4 linked regions of the Homo sapiens genome follow. The protein of the gene in region 1 interacts with the protein of each later gene in a pairwise test. Each region holds a gene or a part of one and is shown in the gene's direction. Other genes may lie near its edges. The genes, in order: EYA2, DTX2, BAG3 and IQUB.

Evidence for each region.
Region 2: the proteins of EYA2 (region 1) and DTX2 interact in binary tests that used the Homo sapiens proteins (3 or more experiments, as listed by UniProt).
Region 3: the proteins of EYA2 (region 1) and BAG3 interact in binary tests that used the Homo sapiens proteins (3 or more experiments, as listed by UniProt).
Region 4: the proteins of EYA2 (region 1) and IQUB interact in binary tests that used the Homo sapiens proteins (3 or more experiments, as listed by UniProt).

The regions. Positions count from the first base shown.
Region 1 is NC_000020.11:46,890,837-46,898,450, forward strand, and holds the start of EYA2 (protein phosphatase EYA2), read left to right. Parts: upstream 1-4,006; 5' UTR 4,007-4,151; intron 4,152-7,614. UniProt on the Homo sapiens protein: Functions both as protein phosphatase and as transcriptional coactivator for SIX1, and probably also for SIX2, SIX4 and SIX5.
Region 2 is NC_000007.14:76,478,160-76,485,863, forward strand, and holds part of DTX2 (probable E3 ubiquitin-protein ligase DTX2), read left to right. Parts: intron 1-2,261; 5' UTR 2,262-2,350; coding exon 2,351-2,618; intron 2,619-4,348; coding exon 4,349-4,988; intron 4,989-7,704. UniProt on the Homo sapiens protein: Regulator of Notch signaling, a signaling pathway involved in cell-cell communications that regulates a broad spectrum of cell-fate determinations.
Region 3 is NC_000010.11:119,668,105-119,675,808, forward strand, and holds part of BAG3 (BAG family molecular chaperone regulator 3), read left to right. Parts: intron 1-1,746; coding exon 1,747-2,073; intron 2,074-4,150; coding exon 4,151-4,552; intron 4,553-7,704. UniProt on the Homo sapiens protein: Co-chaperone and adapter protein that connects different classes of molecular chaperones including heat shock proteins 70 (HSP70s), e.g. HSPA1A/HSP70 or HSPA8/HSC70, and small heat shock proteins (sHSPs), e.g. HSPB8.
Region 4 is NC_000007.14:123,524,327-123,532,030, reverse strand, and holds part of IQUB (IQ motif and ubiquitin-like domain-containing protein), read left to right. Parts: intron 1-3,679; exon of another isoform or gene 3,680-3,786; intron 3,787-7,704. UniProt on the Homo sapiens protein: Adapter protein that anchors the radial spoke 1 (RS1) complex to the A microtubule of outer doublet microtubules in axonemes. The triple radial spokes (RS1, RS2 and RS3) are required to modulate beating of the sperm flagellum.

The DNA.
Region 1 (7,614 bases):
GTTTAGAAAAAAGGCATGATTTGTAGAATTCACATGTGTGTTTGTAGGATATGTATATACATATCCTACAATGAATATACATACATTGGATATATTGTGAGGTTCATAGTTTTCAAAATTAATGTGTTTTTCTGGCTTTAGAGGGCATTTACTTGGAAGACTGGAGTGGGGGAAATGTGTTTTACTCCAAGGTAGGCATGACTGTGGACTACACCACAAAGAATCTGCTGTATGGCTTAGCACTTTCAAATTTTGTTTGGGATCATTTTGCTGGTTGTTATCAAATGAGGACAAATACTTAACAAAGAGATAGCAAGGGAAGAAAGAGACAGAAAGGGGGTGCTTCTACATAGGAAGGTGGCTGAATTTTCAGGGTCTTGAATTAGCATTGGGGGCTTAAGTCCTATCAGCTTCTGCTCATCTGCTGTGACTCTGTGGTCAAGGTCTCACTCTCCCAAAGATAGGGATTCTCTTCCTCTGCTGTATATTGGAATCACCTAGGGAGCTTTAAAAAAGGATGATGCCGGCCAAGCACAGTGGCTCACGCCTGTAATCCTAGCACTTTGGGAGGCCAAGATGGGTGGGTCACCTGAGGTCAGGAGTTCAAGAGCAGCCTGGCCAACATGAAGAAACCTTGTCTCCACTAAAAATACAAAACTTAGCTGGGCGTGGTGGCACATGCCTGTAATCCCAGCTACTTGGGAGGCTGAGGCAGGAGAATTGCTTGAATCCAGGAGGTGAAGGTTGCAGTGAGCCAAGATCACACCATTGCACTCCAGCCTGGGCGACAGAGTAAGGCTCCTTCTCAAAAAAAAAAAAAAAAAAAAAAAGGCAGATGCCACAGTTCCACCCCAGAGTCTGGTTTAATTGGTCTAGGATGGGGACTCAGCATGGAGATTTTTAAAAGCTCTCCCTGGAGATTCTGTGCACCCAGAGTTGAGAATCACAGCGCTAAGAGAAGGAAAAATAAAATTAATAAGCACCTGCCTCCTGCTTATCTCTCAGGGTCGTTGGGGTGTGTCTGTAATTTATGAAATAATGGGCCAGATTCTGGGGAAGGAATAAAATGGTATGAAGGAAATAGATTAACCCTTTGCATTCTATAGGGTACCTTTGGTTAACAAGTGTTCAAGATTTTTCCCCATGAGCCACAGGAAGAAACATTTCACATCCTGACCAAAGATATAGATATAGATATGGATATAGATATAGATACAGATACATGTGTGTATATATATATGTATGTATGTATACGTATATATGATATACGTATACATATATACATATATATCTCTCCATTGTAAATTGAAAATATCCTAAGTTCAAAATGCATTTAATACGCCTAACCTACTGAACATCATAGCTCAGCCTAACCTACCTTAAATGCACTCAGAACACTTGCATTACCTCGCAGTTGGGCAAAATCATCTAATACAAAGCCTATTTTATAATACAGTTTTGAATATCTCATGAAATTTATCAAATATTTTGCTGAAAGTGAAAAATAGAATGGTTGTATGGGTATCTCAATTGTGGTTTCTACTGAATACACATCACTTTCACATCGTCATAAAGTCAAAAAAATCATTAAGTGAAACCATCATAAATTGGGGACCATATGTATACATTTAACTATATATAGGGGATCATATGTATATATGTAACTATATATGTATAGGTATGTATATATATTCTTACTGCATACAATTCACTTGATATTTCCTATTCCAGTCTATTCCTTTAGGAAAAAAAAATTAAGGTTCACAGGCCAAGACAAATTAAACACCTCTGAAGGTCATTAAGATGCTCAATTTATAATGACTTGGAGCACTTAGCAAAGATACTATGGGAAGTGAAGCTGTGTGTACAGTAATAATATTTGTTGAGCAATTGCTAGTGCCAGCTGCAGTCATAGTAGAAAGTGTTTTATGAGCATGAGCTCCATGAATTTTCACAATAATAGTATAAGATGAGTACTGTTATTTTCACTTTAGTGATGAGAAAATCAAGGCCAAGTACATATGTACATTCTGCCTCTAGAAGACAGAAGCAGAGCCATCTCCAAGCCTACTGCGGCAGGCCCAGAGAAGAGAACAACCATGTTTACTGAATACATTTGCTTCTGTCTGAAGTTTGGGGAGTAGAAAGCGGAGTAAGCTATGACCAGAGGTGGGTCTGGGAATGGTGAGGCCTGATACATGTATAATTTGCAGCCCCTATTCAAGAAAAAGAGTACAAAATTATGAGTCCAAGATTAGATAAGAAAATGATTATTTCTTTAAATTAAGAAAAGAAATCACAACAAATTCAAATTTTAAGAAGCTGAAAATTACCACAAACATCACAAAATTCCCAACTCAACTTTCCTCCAAAATGCCAGCAGCCACCTGACACCACCCTACTCAAGGGCAAGTTGGGGGTGGGGAATCGGAGTGGAAAGACAGCGGTGTCTACGGCCTGCAGCCAAATGTCCAAAGCAAAGGACTTTTGTAAACTTTACATCAACAAGCCACCATCTGAACACTTTTCTAAGTCCCCTTAGAAAGGGGTCCAAGCAAGTCAGGGGCCCAAGAACTTAACCTTCATCAGCTCCTGTAAACTTACAACTGGAATTGAAGACTGTTACGGCTCAAGAGCAACGGCTTTGGAGTCAGCCAGGCCTGAATTTCATTCCTGGCTCAGCCACTTTCTGCCTTCTTTGAGCTTGGACCTGCTCATTTGTGAAATGAGTGTGCTGACAGCAGCTACCTTGGGGTCTCTCTTGGGGATTACATGAGATAAGGAAGAGTTGGGCATTGGATGAGCTTAAGGTTGCAAATAAAAATATAGGACCCCCGGTTACATTGGAATTTCGGAGACAAAAGAAATACTTTTTAAATATAAGTACGTACAACCAATCGCATAAGACATATACTGCAACTGATTCCTCGTTTCTCTGAAATTCAAATTCACCTGGGTGCCCTGTCTTTTACTGCACTTAAGAAATGACAGTGGTTGATATTGCTTTTGGATTGAAGCATCCTGGGTGTCCCACGGTGGAATTCATAGACATTAGAGAGTGGGTGACGGGCTAGGAAAGGCTGCATAGACTCCAATTAACACAGTTCATTGCCAGGGAGACTAAAAGGGGGGTGGCTATGAGAGGATGGAGTAAGTGGGGTGCCTTGATTTGGGCATGTAGGTGGAGGGGGCTATACCTCTCACTTTCACTAAACCAGTTAAGCTCTTGAGACCTCAGTTTCCTTAGCTGTAAAATGGGTGAAACATAGGGGAGACCCCTGAACCGTTCTCACCTAAATACCACACCAATGGCACTTCCTCATAATTCAGATGTCACCTCCTCAGAGAGGTCTTCCCTGACTGCTCTAGCTAAAATTACCGCCTCTCCTCCACTCCCCAACAGCAGATACATATATTATTTTTCTCCCTGTAACTCTAACTTTCTGAAACTGTCTTGCTTCTTTACTTGGTTATTTGTTTATGGTTTGCCTCTCCATGTGAATGCAAGTTCCGGGAGGGCAGAAAACTAGTCTGTCTTGTTCTAGCTGAGTCTCTCAGGAGTGGTACCTGGCACAGTAGATGCTCAATATATTTTGAATGAATGAATGGGTGGTTGAGTGAACGAATGTTAGTGTCACTATTGAGGTCCTCTCCGAGCCGTCGTTCCTTTCACAGGGGTCATGCCTGGGTTGCAGGGAGGATGTGCTGCCCCGGGGAGGGAGGAGGTGCGGGGTGTCGGTGGGTGGGGAGGAGGCTGGGCCCTGGCCTCCAGGACCGGCGAGAGTGAGCGCGCTCTGCTCGGCTGCAGGCTCAGGAAGCGGCGCGGCGGCACGTGCTGGGCCAGAGCCCCGCGCCCTGCGTCCAGCCGCCGGGTGTGTGCGCCCGCGTAGCCCAGCGTCGCGCCTCGGCGCCCCCACGCGCCCACGCAGCGGCGCGGGGACCCGGGCGGGGGCAGAGGGAGGGCCCGGCCCAGGGAGGAGAAGGGGCCGGTCCTCCCGGCGCAGGCAGCAGCCGCGGCAGCCCAGGAGGCGGAGGCAGCGGCAACGGCAGAGACAGCAACGTGCCCGCCGCAGTCAGCCCGGCCTCGTCGGACCCGCACCGGCCCGCCCGCCCGCCCGCACCGCGTCGGGGCGCCCTCTCCACTGCGCGCGGTGAGTACCGCCAGCGGCGCCCACCCCAGGCCGCCCGCCGGGATTCGCCGGGCGGGGGGAGTTGTTCACCGGGACCCCCTCGCCCTGCGCCTCTTTCTGGCACTCGCCAAGCGGGGCCTCCGCAGCTGTCGGGACGTTCTGGGGCGCACGGGCCTCCCAGGGCCAGGAAGGCACAAGGGCAGAGGGGACAGCAGCAGAGCCCCCCTCTGGAAAGGCTCTCCCAGGCTCGGGGCCCCAGTTTCCCCATGCGCTTTGGGGCAACGACCCTGAAGTTTGCTCTCCCGCGCGCGGGACAAGTGCATGGCGCGCAGGCGGTGTAGACGCGGCTGGGTCCTTGGCGTTTTGTTCGATTATGGTCCCGGCGGTTCGCGATAAGGGGCGCTCCCCCAGTCCGCAAACTCAAGCCCTCAGGTAGTGTTTATGGGATAACCAAGAAGCAGAGCCAACCGCTGGAATCCCGGCTTGGGGCTGGAACGGCCCGCTGAGACTTTGCCTTCTAGCTATTGATATATTTCTTTTCAAAAGTCCGTTTGCGCTCGGCCCGCTCTGGTTCAGGTCTGGGGCTTTGAACCGGGGCAGGGAATCCTGGCGCCTGCTGCGGGTAGAGTTGAAACTTAGAAAAGTTTACATCCGAAGGGTGTTTAGAAGGCGGCAAGGATTTCGTTGTAATGGGAGAAAGTGGGAAATGGAATTGTTTTTTAGTCATGAAGTCTGGAGGTTAAACGGCCGTGCTGGCCCAGGCTCCTTCAATATATTCCTGCCTGCCTCCCCCCCAGCAATAAATAGTTTATAAGCTCAAGGAATACTAGGAAAGCGTGACTGGTGAACGTACTCCTATCGCAAAAGACTCAGTGCGCTTTTCTCAGCTGTTGAACTGGAAGCGCCTTTTGCAGTGCGAGGTTCCTGCTTCCCCGAAGCCGAGGCTGAGAGTTGACAGCGTGCACCCTGCCGCGGTCTGAATTCTTTTTAAAAAGCAAGACCGATGCTGCGTTTTTATGGATACCCTTTTCTTTTCTTTCCCCTTCCCCGAAATGCTATGTAATCTTCAATTACTTTTTAAAATATAACGTGGAGGTATAAATCACCCCGGTAAGAGGTACCTTTTAATTACGAGGTGCAGTGGAAGAGCTGAACATTGGAATCTAGCTGTTAGCGAGGGCGGAGGGGCAGGAGGATGATTTACAAACATCATGTAAGAATTTGAGCACTGAATTATGTTTGAGTTAGGGAGATCCCTTACAAAGGAAATTATAACCAGTGGACAATTGTATTTCAAACCGAATCTATTAATTTCATGAGCCGTTTCTTGATTGAGTGAAATGTCTGTGACCATAATAGATACAGAACTAGTAAGCACCTTACCAGACTATGACCCATTTGTTAGCAACTAACATACACATGTAACCATCCTGCTTACAAAAAAAAAAAGAGGTACACAAAGAAAGAGTGGGAGGAGAGAACCTCTTTTTCAAAATAATCTTTGTGAAAGAATCTTTCACAATTTTACTCGATAAATAAATGTTCATTTTTTCCACTTGTCTTTCTTCATCACCTTAAGCCCCTTCATCCTTTACATATCTTTGCATTTAGACACTCTCACACTTGGGTAAGTTCTTCTATAATTTATATAACAAATAACAAATGATAGTGGTTTGAATCTTGCTTTTGACTAAGCATTAAATTGTGTTTGTATTAAAAAAAATCTCCTTGCCTTCGTAGCAAACTCTTAACTTTTGCCATTGTGAAAAGACCAATGTGGTTAGATGCAAAAGAGCCTGAACTTTTTTTTACTTTAAAGCAGTTTATATGTCCCCATTCTCTTGTAACTTCAGCTTCACAATATCATTCACTATTTTATCTGAAAGGAATTGGCATTTTTCTTTTCTGTCTTAAAATAGCTCACCTGGTGTTGTGACCATGTGTATGAGAATACTCTATAAACACACAAATCACTTCCCCAATATCAGAAAAACTAAAGGAAATATAAAATAAAATAAAAAGATGTGTATCTCAATACTTTAGGATTTTTTTAAAAAGTTTTCATCACGTAAGTTTTAGAATCTTCTTTTCATGTCTTTTGTTTTGCATTAAACACATCATAAAGAGGTATGATTTGTTGACTTGTTATAGGATTACCATTTGGCAAAAACGCCCAAGACACGCTGTTTCAAATATGTGGTATTACTTCTGCTTTAAATTGCGTGTAAGAGATTGCAAACCTTGTTCCAGATGGATAAATTGATAAAATGCTAGCTGCTGTTGGGAGAATGGAAAAGCCCTCAGCAAAAAGGCTCTGTGGTGTAGCTAAGTACATTTTGAATTAGGGTGAGCAAGCTATGGAGACCCCAGCCGTTTGTGAAAAAATATACACAGTCCAAGCACGTCCACTTTAAGACGTTGTTGGATCCTCCGTGACAAGATGACTCCTTTCCCACAAAGAAGAAACCGTTTCCTTATTTTTTCAGTTACTTTTCCAAAGACAACTTGCATCGGGCGCAAGAGAGCAGAGTTATGCAGAAATCCAACCGTAACCAGCTCAGAGCGAGGACTCATTCTCTCTCCTTCCACCAGATGTTTTTTAGGTGTCCTCAGCTGGAATGCCCAGTTTGAAACTAATTAGGCCAGCAGTAAACTCCTTGTATAATAAAATCGCAGGCCGTAATGGTGAATAAGTGAGGTTCCCAGCCGCTTATGACAGATGCCTTTCTGGGCAGAGAGAGAAGAGAGCCTGTGGCTGTCAGGAGAAAATGAAGGGAGTGGAGGTGCCTTCTTTAGACACATGCCTTTCCTAAGTATCCACGCACATGATCGCAGAGCGGAGGAGTGGAAGTTGCGACTGGGGTAGAGTTTTGTCTTTGCTGGGCAGGCCTCCTTCATACAAAGATGCTTGGGGGAGAATCAATTATAAGTATTAGGCAGTGTCTTCAGGTCTTAGGTGTATGCTGTGTGTGTGTGTGCAAAGGCTTGGGGAGAAGGATTGGTGTCACGTGCGGGGCAGTGTAAAAAACTTAACTGCTTCCCACCTGGGCACAAAATGAAAAGAAAGACTGCCTGGCCTGACATAAATTCCTTGGGAGAGAGGAGAACCTGCTCCCCCAGAGACTTTTGATAAAGGGAGAATTCGCCTAATGATGTGGTTCCCCTTATCTGTGAGGTTTGTGAGGGTGAAGGAGTTGGTTAGTCTGTTACCTCCAAAGGCTGGACTTTCTGACTAAGACTGGGTTTTGTTGGTGGAAGGAACCGGGTTTTTTGGGTTTTTGTGTTGGTTTTTTTTTTTTTTGGTTGTTTTTGTTTTTGTTTTTTTTAGCTAACTGTTCTGAAAAAGGAGTTGGTAGACTGTGCTCAAAAGGAATCTCTTTACAAAGAATTAATCCCAGAGTTAAGAAAACACAGCCTGTTGACAGAAAACACACACACACACACACACACACACACACCACAATTCTTCACTCACTCCCAACCC
Region 2 (7,704 bases), on another chromosome or scaffold:
CATATTTTATCCCCATTTTGCCAATGAGGAAACTGAGACCCAGGTAGTTACAGTGACGTCCTCATAGTCGCATGGCTTGTGATAAGATGGGGACCCTGGCTTCTGGTGTGGTCCCAGACTGTACTACCCCAGCAAGGTTTCAGTGAGAAGGGTAAGACCACCTTCCCTGGAAGGGAGACAGATGTGGAGCAGCACCTGGAAAGAAGCAGGCCTGGGCTCTGGCATCAGTGTGCACACACACTGCATCAGCTCTGATTTTTTTTTTTTTTTTTTTGTAGAGGTGGGACCTCTTGTCACCGAGGCTGGAGTGCCTTGGGATTATAGCTCACTGCAGCCTCTAACTCCTGGGCTCAAGCCATCCTCCTGCCTCAGCCTCTTGAGTAGCTGGGACTATTGGCATGCACCTCCGCACCTGGCTAACTTTTAAATTTTCTGCAGAGATGGGATCTCACTATGTTGCCCAGGCTGGCCTCAAACTCCTGTGCTCAAACCACCCTCCTGTCGCAGCCTCCCTAAACACTGGCATTGCAGGTGTGAGCCACCACACCCAGTCCCCTTGACCTCTTTCAGCCTTGGTTTCCTGTCCGTAAGTGGGAGAAATGTCACCTTGGCAGTCTGTGCAGCTTAGGAGAGACAAGTACATTTGATGTTGGTTACTAAATGTTGGACCCTGGACCGGCACTCCAACAGCCGGTGCCCTGGGGGGCAGCCATCAGGTGGGGCATTTGCAGGCCTCTTCTTATTCAGACAGCTCCAGGTGCTGAGCGGAATCATTGTCCACATTCACTCTGTCATTCTGAAGCAGTGTGTAGAACATTCTAGAACACTCACCACGTGGCATGCCCCTGCTGGGTCCCGGTGATGCAGCTGTGAATGAAGCAGGCTTGGGGTTGCTGCCACCTGGGGAGGAGCAGAAGGACTGTGGTCACAGCCACACGTGGACGCGGTTACTAGGGTTCTGGTGGGTGCTGTGGAGGGTGCAGAGGGCGTGTGATGGGTCATCCTGAGCGATGCAAGCTGGGCCTGGAGGACGTGGAGTGTTCGCAAGGGAAGAGGGTGGGCTGGAGTGACTGCAAGGAGAAGGTCTCGGGAGGTGGAGCTCGGGATGTGGGGAAGAGCTCCCTGGGCCTGGTGGCCGGTCAGCAGGGGCCAGGTCGGGGAGTGGGTGCAGAGAGCCTTGGAGAGGCCAGAGAGGGGTGATTCGGTGCCCATCTAGGGCTTCCTTTTTGGTTAGCAATGCTTCAGGGCACCTGGGAGACATGAGGAGCTAGAACCTGTGCTGCAGTTCCCAGCTCTGCCCCTGCTCCCTGGGTGTCCCAAACCCTGCTCCTTTCCAAGAAATGTTGGGATCTCATCTTCAGGATGGTGGGTGCTAATAGGGAGGCTGAGGTGGGTGGATCACCTGAGGTCAGGAGTTTGAGACCAGCCTGGCCAACATGGTGAAACCCCGTCTCTACTAAAAATACAAAAAATTAGCTGGGCGCAGTGGTGCATGCCTGTAGTCCTAGCTACTCGGGAGGCTGAGGCAGGAGAATCACTTGAACCTACCCGGGAGGTGGAGGTTGCAGTGAGCCGAGATCACACGCCTGGGTGACAAGAGGGAAACTCCATCTCAAAGAAAAAAAAATACATGCATGATGAAACACACTAAGCAGTTGGGTCAGAGGGGAATTATCAGTAGCAAGAAAGAAGCTGGGCTGGTGACTAGCACCCGGAATTTATGCTCTCTTTCTTCATGGGCCTGTGCGGCGGTACGTAGGCTGCGGGATTGACTTTGAATTCTTCCTGGCTGCCACAGCAAAGAGACAGGATCAGGTTCTTGATTCATGATGCCCTTAAGGTGTTAGGGGAAGAAAAGCAAGCGTGAGACCAGGCGCGGTGGCTCACACCTGTGATCCCAGCACTTGGGAAGGCTGAGGCGAGTCTATCCCTTGAGGCTGGGACTTTGAGACCAGCCTGGGCAACACAGACATCATCTCTACAAAAAGTAAAAAAATGAGCTGGGTGTGGTGGTGAATGCCTATTGTCCCAGCTGCTCTGGAGGCTGAGTTGTGAGGATTGCTTGAGACCAGGAGTTTGAGGCTGCTGTGAGCCAAGATCACACTGCTGCACTGTAGCCTGGGTGAGAGAGTGAGACCCTGTAACCAAAAAAAAAAAAAAATCAGCTGTGGAAAAGCATCACGTGTTTCCCCTGCGCTGAGGCTGATTCTGCAGGGCTACTGATGTGCATTGGTAACTGCTCATGTCTGTCCTGTTCACAGATCTGCCGGAGGCGCTGGGCAATGACCCCGGGACTCCAGGCCAGAGGGGTCTGAAGCTGTTTGGGAAAGCAGCGGGACTCCTTGGGAAGATGGCCATGGCCCCAAGCCCTTCCCTGGTGCAGGTGTACACCAGCCCCGCGGCTGTGGCCGTGTGGGAATGGCAGGACGGGCTGGGCACCTGGCACCCCTACAGTGCCACCGTCTGCAGCTTCATCGAGCAGCAGTTTGTCCAGCAGAAGGGCCAACGTTTTGGGCTTGGGAGCCTGGCCCACAGCATCCCCTTGGGCCAGGCAGACCCCTCGCTGGCCCCTTACATTATTGACCTCCCCAGCTGGACCCAGTTCCGCCAGGACACCGGTAAGACGCTGTCTGCCTCTCGCACATATCTGGGTGCCGCACCTGCTTTCCCACAGGCTCTGCGCCAGGTGTTGGGGTGATGGACGTGACTTACAGAGCTTCTGCTCTCTCCCTGCAGCACACGTGGTGGTGGGTGGGTGCAGTGAGTGGGAACATCCACATAGGTTGAGTGCAGCTCACAGTGGGAGAGGCACTGTGGGAGGCCCTTCCCCTTGTCTTGCAAAGCAGAAATGCCTGTCCCGACCACAGAGGTTGAAGGGTTCCTTTGGCCGGCAGGCCGGCATGGAGGTGGTGCGTCATAGGAGTTCAGAGGGCCCTGTCCCACCACTCAGTGGCTGTGTGCCCTGGGCAGGCAACTGCGCCCCTCTGCATGTGTGCGTTTCTGCTTTTTGGTCTGCGATGTGTTTTGATCTTTTTTTTTTTTTTTGAGACGGAGTCTGGCTCTGTTGCCTAAACTGGAGTGCAGTGGCGCAGTCTCGGCTCACTGCAACCCCTGCCTCCTGGGTTCAAGCGATTCTCCTGCCTCAGCCTCCCGAGTAGCTGGGATTATAGGCATCCACCACCACACCTGGCTAATTTTTGTATTTTTAGTAGAGACGGGGTTTTGCCACGTTGGCCAGGCTGGTGTCGAGCTCCTGACCTCAGGTGATCTGCCTGCCTCGGCCTCCCAAAGTGCTGGGATTACAAGCATGAGCCACCGCGCCTGGACCTGCAGTGTGTTTTGATCAGTATTATTGAGAATGAGGCACCAGTTTCCTCTCGGAGCCATCCCTTACTCTAATCTGGTGGTTGTCACTGGGGGTGATTTTGTCCCCGGGGCCATCTGACAATGTTTGGAGACATTGTTGGTTGTTACAGCTGAGTGGGTGGGAGGTGGGGGTGCTCCTGGCATCTGGTGGGTGGAGGCCAGGGATGCTGCTCGCCATCCGGCAGTGCACTGGGCTGGCCCTGCAGTAAGGAATTATTGGCCCACAGTGTCACCAGTGAGGAAACTTGAAAAACTGGTTTTTCCTTTTTTTTTTCAATTTTAATTTTAGTTTTATTTTTAAAAGTATGGGTTTTTTTTTTTCGTGTTTGTTTGTTTGTTTGTTTTTTGTAAAGACTGGGTCTCCATTGCCCTGTGTTGCCCAGGCTGGTCTTCAACTCCTGAGCTCAAGTGATCCTCCTGCCTTGGCCTCCGAAAGTGTTGGGATTACAGGCTCGAGCCGTCATGCCCAGCCCTGGAAACTATGTGTTTCCAGGAGTGTCGTAGAGTCTGTGAAAACTGTGGCTGTCAGTCAGCTCCCAAGTCGTTGCCTTCACAGTGTGTGAAGTCAACTGAGAAAGATAGCAGACAGGATAAATAATAACATGGAAATTGCATATCGTGGCAGAGAGCAGGAAGTGTTAATCGGGGAATGAAAGTGGCAGGTGTTGTAGAGGTCGATTTGAAGTTAGCTGGGTGTGGTGTCATGTGCCTGTAGTCCCAGTTATTTAGGAGGCTAAGGCAGGAGGATCGCTTGAGCCCAGGAGGTCAGGGTGGCAGTGAACTATGATCACATCACTGCACTGCAGCCTGGGCGACAAAGGGGTACCCTGCCTCTAACAATAAATAAATAAACAAATAGCAGCATGACTGTGTACCTACTGTGTTCCTATTTGTTTATTTTGGCGGTTGAAAAAAGAATTTGAACGTTCCCTGTATCTTGGGGATGCTAGCAGACTAACCTTTTGTTTTCCTTTGAAAATAGGCACCATGCGGGCTGTGCGGAGACACCTGTTCCCCCAGCACTCAGCCCCTGGCCGAGGTGTCGTCTGGGAGTGGCTGAGCGACGATGGCTCCTGGACTGCCTATGAAGCCAGCGTCTGTGACTATCTGGAGCAGCAGGTGGCCAGGGGCAACCAGCTCGTGGACTTGGCCCCCCTGGGGTACAACTACACTGTCAACTACACCACCCACACGCAGACCAACAAGACTTCCAGCTTCTGCCGCAGCGTGCGGCGCCAAGCAGGGCCGCCTTACCCGGTGACCACCATCATCGCTCCGCCGGGCCACACAGGCGTCGCCTGCTCTTGCCACCAGTGCCTCAGTGGCAGCAGAACTGGCCCCGTGTCAGGCCGCTACCGCCACTCCATGACCAACCTCCCTGCATACCCCGTCCCCCAGCACCCCCCACACAGGACCGCTTCTGTGTTTGGGACCCACCAGGCCTTTGCACCGTACAACAAACCCTCACTCTCCGGGGCCCGGTCTGCGCCCAGGCTGAACACCACCAACGCCTGGGGCGCAGCTCCTCCTTCCCTGGGGAGCCAGCCCCTCTACCGCTCCAGCCTCTCCCACCTGGGACCGCAGCACCTGCCCCCAGGATCCTCCACCTCCGGTGCAGTCAGGTATCGTGGGCAACGGCCGCTCGTTTTGTCTGCCCTGTGTTTCCGCTCTTAGCCGGGAAGACTCACCCCAATTCCTGCAGATGCGGCTCCTGCCCCCTAGGTGGTCCTGCCGTGGCATCTCATTTGCATGTGGCATGTGGGTGCCGAGGTGCCGTGGCCATCCAGAGCCTACCTGACCCCTTGTACCTGAGTCCTGGCGGTCACCACACGGGTTAGAATCTACAGTCCTTTCACTCATGATGATTAAGGGCCTCCACATGGAGCAGAGTTAAAGGCCTGTGGCCTCTGCTTGCGGGCTGCATGGCGAGCATTGTGCCCGAGAACACTGGGTCACTGCCTGTACACTGACTCCCGCCTTGTGCCAGGCCCTAAGGACCCAGAGACCAGAGTATCAGCCCTTACCCCTGAGCCCTAGTCTAGTGCAAGGGGCTGTCAGCGCGGTGTGAGGGAGGGCAGAATGTGGAGCACGTGGCAGTGGCTGCAGGTGGCATGGGTGACCTGGCCCCCGTGATGATGCAGCCCAGCCCAGAGTGCCTGGTAGAGCGCTCAGCTCCTTGAGAGAGAGAGAATGATACCACGGGCCCAGTGCAGACCAGAGCGGGTGGCATTTAAAATGAGGAGATTGGTCAGGCACAGAGGCTGACACCTTTAATCCCAGCACTTTGGGAGGCCAAGGCAGGAAGATCATTTGAACCCAGCAGTCAGAGACCAGCCTGAGCAACATAGCGAGACCCCATCTCCACAAAAAAAATTTTTTTAATTAGCCAGGCATGGTGGTACACACCTGTAATCCCAGCTACTTGGGAGACTGAGGCAGGAGGATTGCTGGAGACCAGGAGGTCAAGGCAGCAGTGAGCTGTGATCGCACCACTGCACTTCAGCCCCCTAGGTGACAGAGCGAGACCCTGTCTTAAAGCTGGGCCCAGTGGCTCACGCCTGTAGTTCCAGCACTTTGGGAGGCCGAGGTGGGCGGATCACCTGAGGTCAGGAGTTCAAGACCAGCCTGGCCAACATGGTGAAACCCCATCTCTACTAAAAATACAAAAATTAGCCAGGCATGGTGGCCAGCGCCTGTAATCCCAGCTACTTGGAAGGCTGAGGCAAAAGAATCCCTTGAACCCAGGAGGTGGAGGTTGCAGTGAGCCAAGATCGTGCCACTGCGTTCCAGCCTGGGCAACAAAGAGCGAAACTCCATCTCGGGGGAAAAAAATAAAAAAGATAAAATGAGGAACCCCCCCAGGATTTCCCTGGATTTGGCCAAGGTGAATGGGCTGGCCGTAGCCCTCTGACTGTCTGGGTGACTTGGGGCTTCGTCATTCATTATTGAGAATGTTGGGCTTGGAGCACATTTTGAGAATTCAGAGTGGTAGCTGGGACAGGGCTTTCTGAGAGTGCCCTGGTGCGGGTGGTGAGGGAGTGGGTGGGCCTGGGGCCACCCTGGTCCCAGGGAGGAAATCATCTCCTTTCTCCGCACTGGCCCTGGTCGGCATCCTGCTGCCTCCCTGCTCACCGGCCCACCCCTGCCCACCGCAGCCACGTCAAGGGCTGAAACTTCACAGGGTGGTTGAGACCGCCTTGGCAGCTTCTTGGACCTCTAGTATTTGTTCAGACTGGGTTTCCGAGGACCCTGCCAGCTTGTGTAAGACACAGTGACAGCGCCTCCCGCTCATTGGTTCGTGTCATGTGCCAGGCCCTCCTGAGCAGGCTGCTTGAGTGACTTCACTCATCCCACGATGCTCTCAGGCTGAGCAGTGTTCTTCGCTTACAGGAGAGCACATTCAGGCCCATGAGGTTGGCGACACAGCCAGCAAGTAGCGGAGCTGGGATTCAGCCCAGACCCCAAGAGTGGGCTATCTGGGGCACATGGGGAGTTATTGACATTCCCGGGAAGGCAGGGGGCTCTTTTAATACATTTTAATTTTATTTTATTACTATTTTTAAAGACAAGGTTTTGCTCTGTCACCCAGGCTAGCGTACAGTGGTGCAATCATGGTTCACTGCAGGCTTGAACTCCTGTGCTCAAGTGATCCTCCTGCCTCAGCCTCCTGAGTAGCTGGGACCACAGGTATACACCACCACACCCGGCTAATTTTTCAGTTTTACGTAGAGGCAAGGTCTTGCCATGTTGTCCAGGCTGGTCTTGAATTCTTGGCCTCAAGCAATTCTCTTGCCCCAGCCTTCCAAAGTGCTGAGATTATAGGCATGAGCCACCACACCTGGCCCAAAAGGCCTCTTGAGGGATGAGCTAGGAGGAGGCCAGTAGACAGGAGGGTGATGGGCCTTGGGTGAGTCAGAGTTTTCCGGGGCATCTTCTGCCAGGAGTTGGGGCACGTGCATCTGAGATCTTTCTGGGAGTTGGGAGTATAGGAAGGTGTCATCGGGGCTCTCTGAGGACATAGACATAGGCAAGCCAGGCTCAGGGAGATGCTCCCCCAACTTCCCTCCCTGAGTATCTGGGTCAGCCTGTTTCAGAGAACAGTGTGCTCTATCTGCTGGCCCAGGAGGGTTCTTAGAGGTGCTGGGACTTCTGTCAGCCCTGTTCCACTCAGCTTCCTGGAGCTTCTTAAGTTCTTAGGAATTATTTTGAGGCAAATTTCTAGATAGTGCTAGAGCTGGGATTCTGGAGTTAAGTCATTTAATGTGGATTTGTTCCTTTCTCCTGGTATTGGGCCTCGTTGGTCTTTCCTAAACCATTTCCGTTTCTCCCAGTATTTCT
Region 3 (7,704 bases), on another chromosome or scaffold:
TGGCTGTTCTAATCTGAGAATGCCTGTCTGCCCATGTCCCCAAGGACACAGTGACACCCATGCCTTTCCTGTGTGCTGGAGGCCCTCCAAGGGCAGGGTCTCAGCAGGAGGGAGGCAGTTGATGGGCCTGAAAGGGCTAAACCAGGGTCAGCCACCTGGTGCCCACGCCTGCACACAAATAGAAACATCACAGAATTAATGGTCTGTTCTCTCAAAGTGCAGAGCAGCCCTCAGTATCTGTCCTTACTTTTGATTGATTCCGCAGCAGTAGAGATTGTCCCCTGCAAGCTCATAGATTGTTAGCCTTTGGCGTTTGTTCGCCGTGCAGACAGCTGCCTTCGTCAGGAAAGATCACTCCCCTTCTTAAGAGTTGCCTTACACAGATATATGCAAATGACACTTATCAGTAGCTCCCCTCCTGGGAAAGGACCCTCGGTGCTCGGGGACTGTTAGGACTTCTGTTGCGCAGCCCAGCTTGCTGAGAGATGGCATTGCCCAGTGAGTGACTGGCCAGCCTTGTTGTCTGAAATAAGATCTTTCCTGTGGTACATCTGGAACTTGGCCTTCTCAAGGGTCCCAAAATAGCCAGGCCACTGAAGGGAGAACTTCAAGAGAGGACATAAGAGAAGGACCCCAACTGCTCCTTGCCCAAGCAGGCTCTGTTGCGTTGAAGAAAAAGTTCTTCAGTGATACTTGTTAAAGCACAGTCAGGAAGATTTATTCGGGGCCATCAAGATAGGCACAGGGACCACGGCAGTGGGGTCGTGCAGTCATGGGTAGAGACTGGGCACAACTTCAAATACAACACGGGCGATTGGGAATTTATAGTCAAGGAGCAGTGTGGATGGAAAATTAGAAGAGGAAACATCAGGGCTAAGGGTGTTTCTGGCTATGCTGACCAAACAGGATTCTTGCCGAAGACAGGCCAGGGTGATTAGACAGCACCTGGAGGCTGTGGAAGCTGATCAGATAGTGAGGCTGGGGAGGGGGTTTCTGGCTAAACTGACTTAGCAGTGTCTTTTGCTAAAACTTGACTTTACAAGGAAGTGCACAGATGGGCCTAGGAGATGCTTCGGAAGCCTAAGATTTGGTCAAGCAGAGAATCTTTGTCAGTTGGCATCGTTAGGCGACACAGTTAACCCTGGGTGCCCCTCTCTCCCTATGCTGCCTCTGCATCCCTGTCCTTCCCCTTCCTGCAAATTGTTCTAACAATACTCCTGAGGAGGCAGCCCTCGCTCCCCAGCCCACTTCTCTGTAAAGATTCCCAAACTGTGTCCTGTGTTTGGGCCCAGTACAAGCTCTATATTGCTGGGAAATGTGAGGGCCTTTTTGGAAACAGAGACGCTTGCTGTAATGTAGAGGTTGGAGCTGACCCCTGCTCCTGGAGCTCATCTTCTGATCCGGGTCTCTGAAAATGCGGGCATGGGCAGCTCTCCTACACTCACCGCTTCCCTCAGTCACCCAGAAAAGAAACCTGTCTTACCAGTTTGGAGAATTGGGACCTTTCCTTTGCTTAACAGATACTTTTGGCTTTCTCCTGATGCCCCTAATTCCTAAACTGTTGGCCAAATAGCAACCTCTATGGGGTGGGGGGTTTGGAGGGTACAGGGGCTGGGAGCTGGCTGACGCTTTGAGGCCCAAGTCACTCGGGAAGATCACAATGCCAAGCGCCACAGTGTTTCCTCTGCCAGGAGGGTTCACTTCCCAGTTTCTAACCAGCCTGTGTTTCTCCACTTTTTATTTCAGGAGACTCCATCCTCTGCCAATGGCCCTTCCCGGGAGGGCTCTAGGCTGCCGCCTGCTAGGGAAGGCCACCCTGTGTACCCCCAGCTCCGACCAGGCTACATTCCCATTCCTGTGCTCCATGAAGGCGCTGAGAACCGGCAGGTGCACCCTTTCCATGTCTATCCCCAGCCTGGGATGCAGCGATTCCGAACTGAGGCGGCAGCAGCGGCTCCTCAGAGGTCCCAGTCACCTCTGCGGGGCATGCCAGAAACCACTCAGCCAGATAAACAGTGTGGACAGGTGGCAGCGGCGGCGGCAGCCCAGCCCCCAGCCTCCCACGGACCTGAGGTAAGGAGAGGCCAGGCTCACCAGCCTGCTGGGGAGCAAGCCGCTGTGCTTCCCAGGCCGGGCCCATCCCCTCAGGACAGTGCCCTGGGCCAGGCACCTGTTCACATGCAGGGCATCTGGGTCTAGCCTGCAGCATCAGAGGTCACCCAGCAAAGACAGGGTGATGGCCCCACATCATCCCCCAGCATCTCATAGGGCTGTTCTTCAGTGGGGCAGGGCAGGAATCATGTGGCTTCTTTTTGTAGCTAAGGAACGGCTCGGAAGGGCACACTGCAGCCTGCCTGCTCCAGATGCACACAGGTGGAGGGAGCAGAGCTGGGACCGGAAGCCTGGCCTGCCTTCTGGCGCCTAATTTCCATGCTCCTTATTCACACTGGGCTTTCTATTCAGAAGCACAGAGATAGCTGTGCATTATTTTGTTCAGTTCAATGCTTATGGATAAATCTTAACCGCTTGTGGAGCTATGTTGACAGGAAAATGAGACCCCATGCCTGCCCTCACCGTGCACCACAGTTTCAAAAGAAATAAGGAGTCAGGAAGGCAGCTGCTTTAAGACAGCATTTTAATCCTGAAGCCAAACATCTCAGGGATATGTCAATGGATTCTGTGCATTAATAGCTAAAAAATAGTTCTTAATCTGGTTCTTAGCTGAGATTTGAGGCATTCCTAGTAGGATTCCTAAGCAGTAAGTCCTCTCATTTTCCTGTCTGCACATCATCCTGTGGTGTGTGCCAGCGTTGTTCCTGGGCACAAACTCCCGTGTCCTATCTGCACCCTGAGTCATGCTTGCCTCTCAGCTCCGTCTGAATCTGTTCAGCTTCACACCTGCTTGAGAGTGAAAGTTACAGTTAATGTGGGATACCTTTTTTCTTTTCTTAGAGAGGTAGTACCTGGCTGAGGCAGGTGGATCACTTGAGGCCAGGAATTCAAGACCAGCCTGGCTAACACGGTGAAACCCCGTCTCTACAAAAAATACAAAAATTAGCCGGGCATGGTGGCACATTCCTGTAATCCCAGCTACTCAGGAGGCTGAGGCAGGAGAATTGCTTAAACCCAGGAGGCAGAGGTTGCAGTGAGCCGAGATCGCACCACTGCACTCCAGCCTAGGTGATAGAGCGAGACTGTCTCAAAAATAAAAAAATAAGTAATGCCTATATTTATAATGGTTTTGCTGCAAGAAATCAAAGTGACACATAAATGCGAGACATCTTCACAAATTTAGGCTAACAAAGCACTTAGAAGAGGAAATGCTCTCAATTTCGAGGTGAATAGAAGGTGGCCCAGCAGGGAAAGGTGCTTGACCTGCCTTGGGCCACACGGGATGCTGGCAGCTCCCAGTTGCTCAGCCGAGTTCTCTGTAGATTGGCAGAGAAAGGGTAGTGGGGACAACACATCCCTTGTATGAGCGCTTCCTGTGTGCTGGCCTGGGGCTGAGGCACATGCCCAGGTGACTGACCTCATCTTCAGAGCAGCCCAGTGAGGGAGGGGCACTCTTCCTATATTTCAAATGAAGCTTAGAAAATGATTGAATTACTAGGAATTTGAACATAGGCCCCTTGATTCCAAAGCCTTCAGTCTTTGTTGTGTGTGTGTGTGTTTTGTTTTGTTTTGTTTTGTTTTGCTTTGTTTGAGGTGGAGTCTCTCTCTGTTGCCCAGACTGGAGTGCAGTGGTGTGATCTCAAATCACTGCAACCTCTGCCTCCTAGGTTCAAGCAATTCCCCTGCCTCAGCCTCCTGAGTAGCTGGCACTACAGGCATGCGCCGCCACACCCAGCTAATTTTTGTATTTTTGGTAGAGATGGGGTTTCACCATGTTGGCCAGGCTGCTCTTGAACTCCTGACCTCAGGTGGTCCACTCACCTAGGCCTCCCAAAGTGCTGGGATTACAGGTGTGAGCCACCGCGCCCAGCCCCAGAGCTCTCAGTCTTAACCGCACATTTTGAAAATTGAAAATTACAGATAGGAGGTCTTACAATATGGATTGCCCTGAGGAGGTGCACAGCAGAAGGCGTGGTCAGGATGCCAAGCCAGGGGAGTCATTTGTGGGGTCATGCCCTCTACCCTGTGTCTCTTGCAGCGGTCCCAGTCTCCAGCTGCCTCTGACTGCTCATCCTCATCCTCCTCGGCCAGCCTGCCTTCCTCCGGCAGGAGCAGCCTGGGCAGTCACCAGCTCCCGCGGGGGTACATCTCCATTCCGGTGATACACGAGCAGAACGTTACCCGGCCAGCAGCCCAGCCCTCCTTCCACCAAGCCCAGAAGACGCACTACCCAGCGCAGCAGGGGGAGTACCAGACCCACCAGCCTGTGTACCACAAGATCCAGGGGGATGACTGGGAGCCCCGGCCCCTGCGGGCGGCATCCCCGTTCAGGTCATCTGTCCAGGGTGCATCGAGCCGGGAGGGCTCACCAGCCAGGAGCAGCACGCCACTCCACTCCCCCTCGCCCATCCGTGTGCACACCGTGGTCGACAGGCCTCAGGTACGGGAAGTTAGTCGTCAGCAGACTGGTTATGGTGGTATGTCTCCAGGGGTGCAGGAGCTCTGTGGGTGCCCTGGGTTCCCCCTTCATCCCTGCCTATTTAACATGCGTGTACCTACAGGCAAGTGAGATTCGAGAAATTGCTAGGTATTAACAGAAATGCAGGACAGTTGCTCAGGCTGTGAACCCTCCGCACTCTGCAGCTTTTGCTGGGCTGATCATTGTGCATTGCGGCTGACTTAGAGCAGACGAAACAGCTTGGCAGAACTTACATACCTGGGACCAGCTTCCTTAGTGTCCACCACACCCTTTCAGGGCTCTTCACACCCCCATCCACACCGCAGCCACAGCCTCACCTTGGGTGTAGGCAGTGTGTCACCTTCCACTCAGTTACCCACTCCACTCTGCAGGCCCATTCTGCTCATTCCCACCCCTGTGCCTTTGCCCATGCTGAACCCGCTCCCTGAAATGCCCGCACAGTATAGGTTCTCCCTGTCCTCTGAGGGACGAGCCAGTCTTGTCTCCTCCATGAAGCCTACTCATCCTTCTCATCTCATGATGCCTCATATGAGTCCCTTAATGAGAACTCCCAACTTGTATGAGTTCAACATGTCATTATTCGGGGCATTTCAGAAGTGTTCATTTTATCTCTTCAGCTTAGGGCTGAGCCTGACCACAGGGCCCATGTCTTAACCCCCCTCCTCCCTTTGTAATCAGGTACCATGTGGTCTGGCTGAGGCATCAGCCAGCTATGGCGGATTGGAAGCCGTGCTGGCCTGGGGAAGGTTGTAGGCAGGGGTCTGGTTATCTTCCAGTGGAGACACAAGGTGCAGGTTCCTGGAAGAGGATGTCATTTAGTTTAAGCAGCTCACAGCTTAGCAGCAGGACAGTCAGCAGCCCTGGGCCCCCTGTGGCTGCAACTTGAGCAGCTGAATGCTACAGTTTTTAAAAAGGAAAGCCCCCCGTGAACAAATGTGGGATATTCTTTCATTACAAATGGTCACACTGGCCAGGGCCCTGGAATAGAGCACCCTCATCTTAAAATGTTGTTTTATTTGGAAATAATTTCAATCTCATAGAAGAGTTGTGTGAATCATACAGAGCCCCACATATACTTCATCCAGTTCACTGTTTGTCAATATGTCTGCATTCGCCTTGTCATTTCTTCTCTCGTATATTATTGATGTGTTTTAACTGTTTGAAAATTAATTGCAGACATCATGTCCCTTTTCCCCTGAATAGCAAATATTTTCCTAAGAGGAAGACATTCTCGTTCATAACCATGGTAGACTTACCAGATTCAGGAAATTTCACATTCTTACAACATTATTATCCAGTACATTTTTGAATCTTTTTTATAGCAGTTTGCCCCCACTTCCAGGATGTCTTCCAGGACTGAAACAAGGATCATGAGCACCGCATTTAGATGCAACTTCTCTTCAGTCTTCCCTCAGCCTTTCTTTGCTTTCACGGCCTTGACGGTTTTGAAGAACACAGGCTGTGGAACACCCTCTCTAAAGTGTTTCTAAAGTCACTTCTTACACAGCCATTGCTGTTAGAACCTAGGAGGGGTGCGTGGTTGGGTTGTGAGTGGTAAGGGCCAAAGTTGCGAATGTCTGCATTGGCGAAAGAGATTTGATGGAAAAGGAGGTTGCTGGAGTGTAGACAGCTACATCGATCCATACTTGGGTTCAGCAATCCTAGGAGGGTCCCATTTGTAGAGAGAGGGATATTTTCTCCACATCATTCCCATGTGTTTCTCATCATCAGTGAAATGATATTTCATCCTGTTCTTACCATTAACCGTGTTTGTGGTGACCTCCCTTTTAGAGCTGATTCAAAGTTCCCTTTTGGGAGGCTTTCCAGGATTTCACCAAACTGAACGTTATAGTGGAATTGAGTGTTTTAAGCTGGGAATAGTTTAGAAATAATATAGTCCAGTTATTTCCCAGTTGATGAAATTAGGGTGAGATTTTAAAAGAAGTGTTAGATATTCACTTACATGAATAAGAGCCAAGATAAGGCCAAGCGCAGTGGCTCACGCCTGTAATCCTGTAATCCTAGCACTTTGGGAGGCCGAGGCGGGGGTATCACTTAAGGTCAGGAGTTCAAGACTAGCCTGGCCAACATGGTGAAACCCCATCTCTACTAAAAATACAAAAAAAAAAGTTAACCAGGCATGTTGGTGGGCGCCTGTAATCCCAGCTACTCGGGAGGCTGGGGTGGGAGGATTGCTTGAACTTGGGAGGCAGAGGTTGCAGTGAACTGAGATCACACCACTGCACACTCCAGCCTGGGTGACAGAGCGAGGCTCCGTCTCAAAAACAAAAACAAAAACAAAAAGCGTCAAGATATTTTTGCTTTGAGCATAGCTCATTAAAAAATATATGGCTTACTAGGCGTGGTGGCTCACACCTATAATCCTAGCACTTTGGGAGGCCGAGGTGGGCAGATTGCTTGAGCTTAGAAATTCAAGACCAGCCTGGGCAGCATGGTGAAACCCTGTCTCTACAAAAAAATAGAAAAATTAGCCAGGCATGATGGTATGTGCCTGTAGTTGCAACTAATCATGAAGCTAAGGTGAGAGGATCACTTGAGGCCAGAAGGTTGAGGCTGCATTGAGCTGTGATAGCCCCGCTGCACTCCAGCCTGGGCAACAGAGTGAGACCCTGTCCCCCACAAAAATCTATATATCTATATGGCTGTAGTTTATAGTCACAGGAAAACCTGTGCAGCCAGAGGTTAGCACAGAGGCGCTGTGTCATTGCTGAATGTTAGGCTACAGCACAGCTATCCTGAAGCAAAATTGTTCTGGAGTTAACCATTTAGAGCATCTTGGCTAATCCTAAAAAAATACATTGGTCTGGGCAGAAACTACTAGGCTGTCACGGTTTTAAAAAAAGAAGATCGTATCTTTTCTAAAACAGGAGACAAGAAGATCACACCGTGAGCAGACTGTCTGCACAGTGTAAGGAAGAAGGACCAGAGGCAGCGACTCCAAGGCTGCAACACCTGAGAGCTGGAGTCACTCAGGACTCTGCTCTGAGTCAGCCTAGTTCAGCAGTCAGCATGAGTTTTTGCTATTTTTTTCCTTCTTTCCTTCCTTCCTTCCCTCCTTCCCTCCCCCTCCCTTCCCCCCTTCCCCTTCCCCC
Region 4 (7,704 bases), on another chromosome or scaffold:
TATCATCAAATAGTTACTAATTCCAGTTTAACTAGAAGCTTTGCCAGCGTGAATAGATAAGGGAGAATAGCCACATTGAGTGGAGGAATAAAATTAGAAAACCTCTGTGCTGAAGTCCCAGGAGATCACTTATTAGGCTTGAGCTTGCTAATGGAAGTGGTGATCGTTTAACCATGTGGTTATTGTAGTGGTGAAGATTTACACATTAAATAAGTCTTGGGCATCTGAAGCTTGAAACACTTTCTTAATGAAATCTTGCCGTTGAATCTGTACTTACTGATAATATGTCATTGGTTAAAATATATTTATAAAATGTATAATTGACCAGCAGGTTAATACATTTTTATCATTAATTTGAAATTTATCAAAATGAGAATATACAGTACCTGACGGTCAGTGGAGTTTGATCTTAATTTGATTTGAAAATTATGATCAGGAAAATAAATAACCTGAATATATGCTTAATAATATAAGACTTTGAGTTTGCAAAACAGAAATCCTGACTTGACTAAAATACACTTTTCATTTGACGGAGACCTTTAGTTAAGGAAAGATTAGTTTTAGCATTCAACATAACTAAATACCCAGCATTATGTTTTACGGTTTTTTTCAACAATGATTTATGTGTCGTGTTTGGTGTTGCCTCCAAGCAGTACCTAGGATAGCTGATGCTTTTACTTTGAGTCTTTTTCTTTAGTTGGAACATTAATTGCAAGCTTTTGGTTGGTAATCATTTTTTATGGGATGTATTTACTATATGGTCCTCACGGAGACACATTGTTATCTGGAGAACCACAGTTTGGAAAATACATTTCTCTTTATTATAAAGTTTTTTGTTTTATATATATAATGCCACAGTGTGATAGGATACAAAGACTATGCATTAGGGCTTTGGAGTCTTAATTGTTCTTTGTGTTTTTCTTTTTTTCCAATTTGATTATGGATCCGAACCTAATGCACTCTGTGATCTTAAGCAAGTTTCTTGACAGTTCCAGTTTTCCTATCTACAGAGACAAGAAGATCTACCTCAGAGTCATTGTAAGGATTAAATAAATTTGTAAAGCTCTCAAAGAGCAGCCTAATCCCAGCATTTTGGGTGGCCGAGGCGGGCGGAGCACCTGAGGTCAGGAGTTTGAGACCAGCCTGGCCAACATGGTGAAACCCCGTCTCTGCTAAAAATACAAAAATTGGCCAGGCATGGTGGGGGGTGCCTATAATCTGAGCTACTGGGGAGGCTGAGGCAGGAGAATTGCTTGAATCTGGGAGGTGGAGTTTGCAGTAAGCCAAGATCGCGCCACTTCACTCCAGCCTGGGCAAAAAGAGTGAAACTCCATCTCAAAAAAAAAAAAAAAAAAAAATCAAAGAGCAAAAAGGTAAAAAGTTTGTGCAGAGTAAAAAATGGGTAGAAATGGATTACAGGGAAGCTTATAGTGAGAACAAACCATAAATAAAATTGACATTGTGAACACCAGCCTTAGATTTTTTTTCCCTGAAAATTAAAAAGTGCTTTTTTAAATTTTTTTATTTTTTGAGTTGGAGGGTTTTTTGGTGTTGTTGTTGTTGTTTGTTGTTGTTTTGTTTTTGGTTTTTTGTTTTTTTTCAGAGTCTCCCTCTGTCGCCAGGCTGGAGTGCAGTGGCGCTATCTCAGCTCACTGCAACCTCCGCCTTCCAGGTTGAAGCGATTCTCCTGCCTCAGCTTCCCGAGTAGCTGGGACTACAGGTGCCTGCCACCATGCCCGGCTAATTTTTTGTATTTTAGTAGAGACGGGGTTTCACCATGTTGGCCGGGATGGTCTCGATCAGGCGTGAGCCACTGTACCGGTTGAGATGGAGTCTTGCTCTGTTGCCCAGGCTGGAATGCAGTGGCATGATCTCATCTCATTGCAACCTCTGCCTTCCAGGTTCAAGTGATCCGTGTTTCAGCCTCCCCAATAGCTGCGATTGCAGGCTCCTGCCACCACTCCCAGCTGATTTTTGTATTTTGTTTTGTTTTCTTTTTGAGATGGAGTCTGGCTCTGTCGCCAGGCTGGAGTGCAGTGGTGCAATCTTGGCTCACTGCAACCTCCAACTCCCTGGTTCAAGCAATTCTCCTGCCTCAGCCTCCCGAGTAGCTGGGATTACAGGCACATGCCACCACGCCCAGCTAATTTTTGTATTTTTGGTAGACACAGGGTTTTATCATGTTGGCCAGGATGGTCTTGATCTCCTGACCTTGTGATCCGTCTGCTCAGCCTCCCAAAGTGCTGGGATTACAGGCATGAGCCACCGCACCTAGCCTGTTTTTTTTTTTTTTTTTTTTTTTTTTTAAGTAGAGACAGGGTTTCACTATGTTGGCCAGGCTGGCCTCCCAACTCCTGACCTCAAGATCCGCCCACTTTAGACTCCCAAAGCGCTGGGATTACAGGCATGAGCCACTGCATCCAGCAGAAAATTTAAAAATTAATATAGATTATTGTTTATATATAATTGCATGCATTTAAAAGTTCGATCTTTAACATAACTTTAAAAACTGATTCTTAAAAAATAAATTATCCTATTAAAACAAAAAAAAAACACTAGAGACAGCTTAAATGTCCATCAATGAACAACAGTTGACTACCATGTGGCTTAGCCTTGCAAAGAAGTTACTGTGAAGTTGTTGAAAAGAATGCGGCAGAATCGTATTTTACATAAAAATAAATGTTAAGCACGTATTATAAAAAGTCATAAAATAGTATTAAAGTTTAAAAATAAACAGAAATATAGTTTATGAAAGACATTGATATGATCATAAACAAATTTAAATGTATATATATTATATAATTGTAGCTTTATAGACAATTCCTGGAAAGATAAACTGCCTAACAATGAGAAATAAAATTAGCATGTCTGAAATACTTTTACTTCTTATTTTATCCCCTTCTATTCTGTTAGTTTTTTTTCTAGTAAGCACATATTACTCTCTTAAAAACAACAACAAAATGAATGATAACAATAATGAAAAAATGATTTTGAAAAGTCTTTTCCAACTGTAGCTTTCCAAACTGGGTTGGAAGATCACATTTTACATTTCACACTTTTAATATGTGTACTTTGTTATTTACATTTAATATTTGCTGCAGTGAGAGTTTACACATATGTATGCAAGTAGAGCATATTAATATGTACATATGAGGGGGTATTAGGAACCAATAAAATTAGCTCCTTGTTCTAGATGGGTGAAAAAAAATCTGCTGAATATTTTTTACTCTATTTTAAATCATAGTCATGTTTGTCACTTAAGAATAAAAGACATTCTCTGATAATATATCTGATGGCAAAATTGTTAGTTAAATTCTGGATCTGACTACCACTAACCTACCATGAGGCATTCCTGGGTCTTAGCTTTTTCATCTGCAGGGAGATCAGTTTCTAGACTTTTTCTTCATCACCAGGACCCCTTTTCTGTTCTCCTCCCAATCCCCCATGGACTCCTACACTGAGATACAGCACAGTTAAGTGGTTAAGGGCATGGGTTCTGGATCCAGACTGCCTGGATTTGGATCCCAGATATACTGCCTACTAGCTCTGGGTTCTTGAAAATATTGCTTAACCTCTCTGTGCTAATTTCTTTATCTGTAAAATGGGCATAATGATATCATCTGTGAGAATTAAATAATTTGGTATAAGTATTTGCTAATATTATGCTTTATTTTAAAAGTATTTTTTTCGGGGAGGAGTCAAGATGTCCAAATAGGAATAGCTCTGGTCAACAGCTCCCAGCGTGAGCGACGCAGAAGACGGGTGATTTCTGCATTTCCATCTGAGGTACAGGGTTCATCTCACTAGGGAGTGCCAGACAGTGGGCGCAGGTCAGTGGGTGCGTGCACCGTGCGCGAGCCGAAGCAGGGCGAGGCATTGCCTCACTTGGGAAGCGCAAGGGGTCAGGGAGTTCCCTTTCCTAGTCAAAGAAAGTGGTGACAGACGGCACCTGGAAAATCGGGTCACTCCCACCCGAATACTGCGCTTTTCCGACAGGCTTAAAAAACGGCGGACCAGGAGATTATATCCCCCACCCGGCTCGGAGGGTCCTACGCCCACGGAGTCTCGCTAATTGCTAGCACAGCAGTCTGAGATCAAACTGCAAGGCGGCAGCGAGGCTGGGGGAGGGGCGCCCGCCATTGCTCAGGCTTGCTTAGGTAAACAAAGCAGCTGGGAAGCTCCAACTGGGTGGAGCCCACCACAGCTCAAGGAGGCCTGCCTGCCTCTGTAGGCTCCACCTCTGGGGGCAGGGCACAGACAAACAAAAAGACAGCAGTAAACTCTGCAGACTTAAATGTCCCTGTCTGACAGCTTTGAAGAGAGCAGTGGTTCTCCCAGCACGCAGCTGGAGATCTGAGAACGGGCAGACTGCCTCCTCAAGTGGGTCCCTGGCCCCTGACCCCCGAGCAGCCTAACTGGGAGGCACCCCCCAGCAGGGGCAGACTGACACCTCACACGGCCGGGTGCTCCAACAGACCTGCAGCCGAGGGTCCTGTCTGTTTGAAGGAAAACTAACAAACAGAAAGGACATCCACACCAAAAACCCATCTGTACATCACCATCATCAAAGACCAAAAGTAGATAAAACCACAAAGATGGGGAAAAAACAGAGCAGAAAAACTGGAAACTCTAAAAAGCAGAGTGCCTCTCCTCCTCCAGAGGAACGCAGTTCCTCACCAGCAACAGAACAAAGCTGGATGGAGAATGACTTTGACGAGCTGAGAGAAGAAGGCTTCAGACGATCAAATTACTCCGAGCTACAGGAGGAAATTCAAACCAAAGGCAAAGAAGTTGAAAACTTTGAAAAAAATTTGGAAGAATGTATAACTACAATAACCAATAAAGAAAAGTGCTTAAAGGAGCTGATGGAGCTGAAAACCAAGGCTCGAGAACTACGTGAAGAATGCAGAAGCCTCAGGAGCCGATGTGATCAACTGGAAGGAAGGGTATCAGCGATGGAAGATGAAATGAATGAAATGAAGGCTACAAGCCAGAAGAAAGTGGAGGCCAATATTCAACATTCTTAAAGAAAAGAATTTTCAACCCAGAATTTCATATCCAGCCAAACTAAGCTTCATAAGTGAAGGAGAAATAAAATACTTTACAGACAAGCAAATGCTGAGAGATTTTGTCACCACCAGGCCTGCCCTAAAAGAGCGCCTGAAGAAGCGCTAAACGTGGAAAGGAACAACTGGTACCAGCCGCTGCAAAATCACGCCAAAATGTAAAGACCATCGAGACTAGGAAGAAACTGCATCAACTAATGAGCAAAATAACCAGCTAACATCATAATGACAGGATCAAATTCACACATAACAATATTAACTTTAAATGTAAATGGACTAAATGCTCCAATTAAAAGACACAGACTGGCAAATTGGATAAAGAGTCAAGACCCATCAGTGTGCTGTATTCAGGAAACCCATCTCACGTGCAGAGACACACATAGGCTCAAAATAAAAGGATGGAGGAAGATCTACCAAGCAAATGGAAAACAAAAAAAGGCAGGGGTTGCAATCCTAGTCTCTGATAAAACAGACCTTAAACCAACAAAGATCAAAAGATACAAAGAAGGCCATTACTTAATGGTAAAGGGATCAATTCAACAAGAAGAGCTAACCTAAATATATATGCACCCAATACAGGAGCACCCAGATTCATAAAGCAAGTCCTGAGTGACCTACAAAGAGACTTAGACTCCCACACATTAATAATGGGAGACTTTAACACTCCACTGTCAACATTAGACAGATCAACGAGACAGAAAGTCAACAAAGATACCCAGGAATTGAACTCAGCTCTGCACCAAGTGGACTTAATAGACATCTACAGAACTCTACACCCCAAATCAACAGAATATACATTTTTTTCAGCACCACACCACACCTATTCCAAAATTGACCACATACTTGGAAGTAAAGCTCTCCTCAGCAAATGTAAAAGAACAGAAATTATAACAAACTATCTCTCAGACCACAGTGCAATCAAACTAGAACTCAGGATTAAGAATCTCACTCAAAACCGCTTAACTACATGGAAACTGAACAACATGCTCCTGAATGACTACTGGGTACATAACAAAATGAAGGCAGAAATAAAGATGTTCTTTGAAACCAACGAGAACAAAGACACAACATACCAGCATCTCTGGGATGCATTCAAAGCAGTGTGTAGAGGGAAATTTATAGCACTAAATGCCCACAAGAGAAAGCAGGAAAGATCCAAAATTGACATCCTAACATCACAATTAAAAGAACTAGAAAAGCAAGAGCAAACACTTTCAAAAGCTAGCAGAAGGCAAGAAATAACTAAAATCAGAGCAGAAATGAAGGAAACAGAGACACAAAAAACCCTTCAAAAAATTAATGAATCCAGGAGCTGGTTTTTTGAAAGGATGAACAAAATTGATAGACCGCTAGCAAGACGAATAAAGAAAAAAAGAGAGAAGAATCAAATAGACGCAATAAAAAATGATAAAGGGGATATCACCACCTATCCCACAGAAATACAAACTACCATCAGAGAATACTACAAACACCTCTACGCAAATAAACTAGAAAATCTAGAAGAAATGGATAAATTCCTGGACACATACACTCTCCCAAGACTAAACCAGGAAGAAGTTGAACCTCTGAATAGACCAATAACAGGAGCTGAAATTGTGGCAATAATCAATAGCTTACCAACCAAAAAGAGTCCAGGACCAGATGGATTCACAGCCGAATTCTACCAGAGGTACAAGGAGGAAATGGTACCATTCCTTCTGAAACTATTCCGATCAATAGAAAAAGAGGGAATCCTCCCTAACTCATTTTATGAGGCCAGCATCATCCTGATACCAAAGCTGGGCAGAGACACAACCAAAAAAGAGAATTTTAGACCAATATCCTTGATGAACATTGATGCAAAAATCTTCAATAAAATACTGGCAAACCGAATCCAGCAGCACATGAAAAAGCTTATCCAACATGATCAAGTGGGCTTCATCCCTGGGATACAAGCCTGGTTCAATATACGCAAATCAATAAATGTAATCCAGCATATAAACAGAACCAAAGACAAAAACCACATGATTATCTCAATAGATGCAGAAAAGGCCTTTGACAAAATTCAACAACACTTCATGCTAAAAACTCTCAATAAATTAGGTATTGATGGGACGTATCTGAAAATAATAAGAGCTATCTATGACAAACCCACAGCCAATATCATACTGAATGGGCCAAAACTGGAAGCATTCCCTTTGAAAACTGGCACAAGACAGGGATGCCCTCTCTCACCACTCCTATTCAACATAGTGTTGGAAGTTCTGGCCAGGGCAATTAGGCAGGAGAAGGAAATAAAGGCTATTCAATTAGGAAAAGAGGAAGTCAAATTGTCCCTGTTTGCAGACGACATGATTGTATATCTAGAAAACCCCATTGTCTCAGCCCAAACTCTCCTTAAGCTGATAAGCAATTTCAGCAAAGTCTCAGGATACAAAATCAATGTACAAAAATCACAAGCATTCTTATACACCAACAACAGACAGAGAGCCAAATCATGAGTGAACTCCCATTCACAATTGCTTCAAAGAGAATAAAATACCTAGGAATCCAACTTACAAGGGATATGAAGGACCTCTTCAAGGAAAACTACAAACCACTGCTCAAGGAAATAAAAGAGGATACAAACAAATGGAAGAACATTCCATGCTCATGGGTA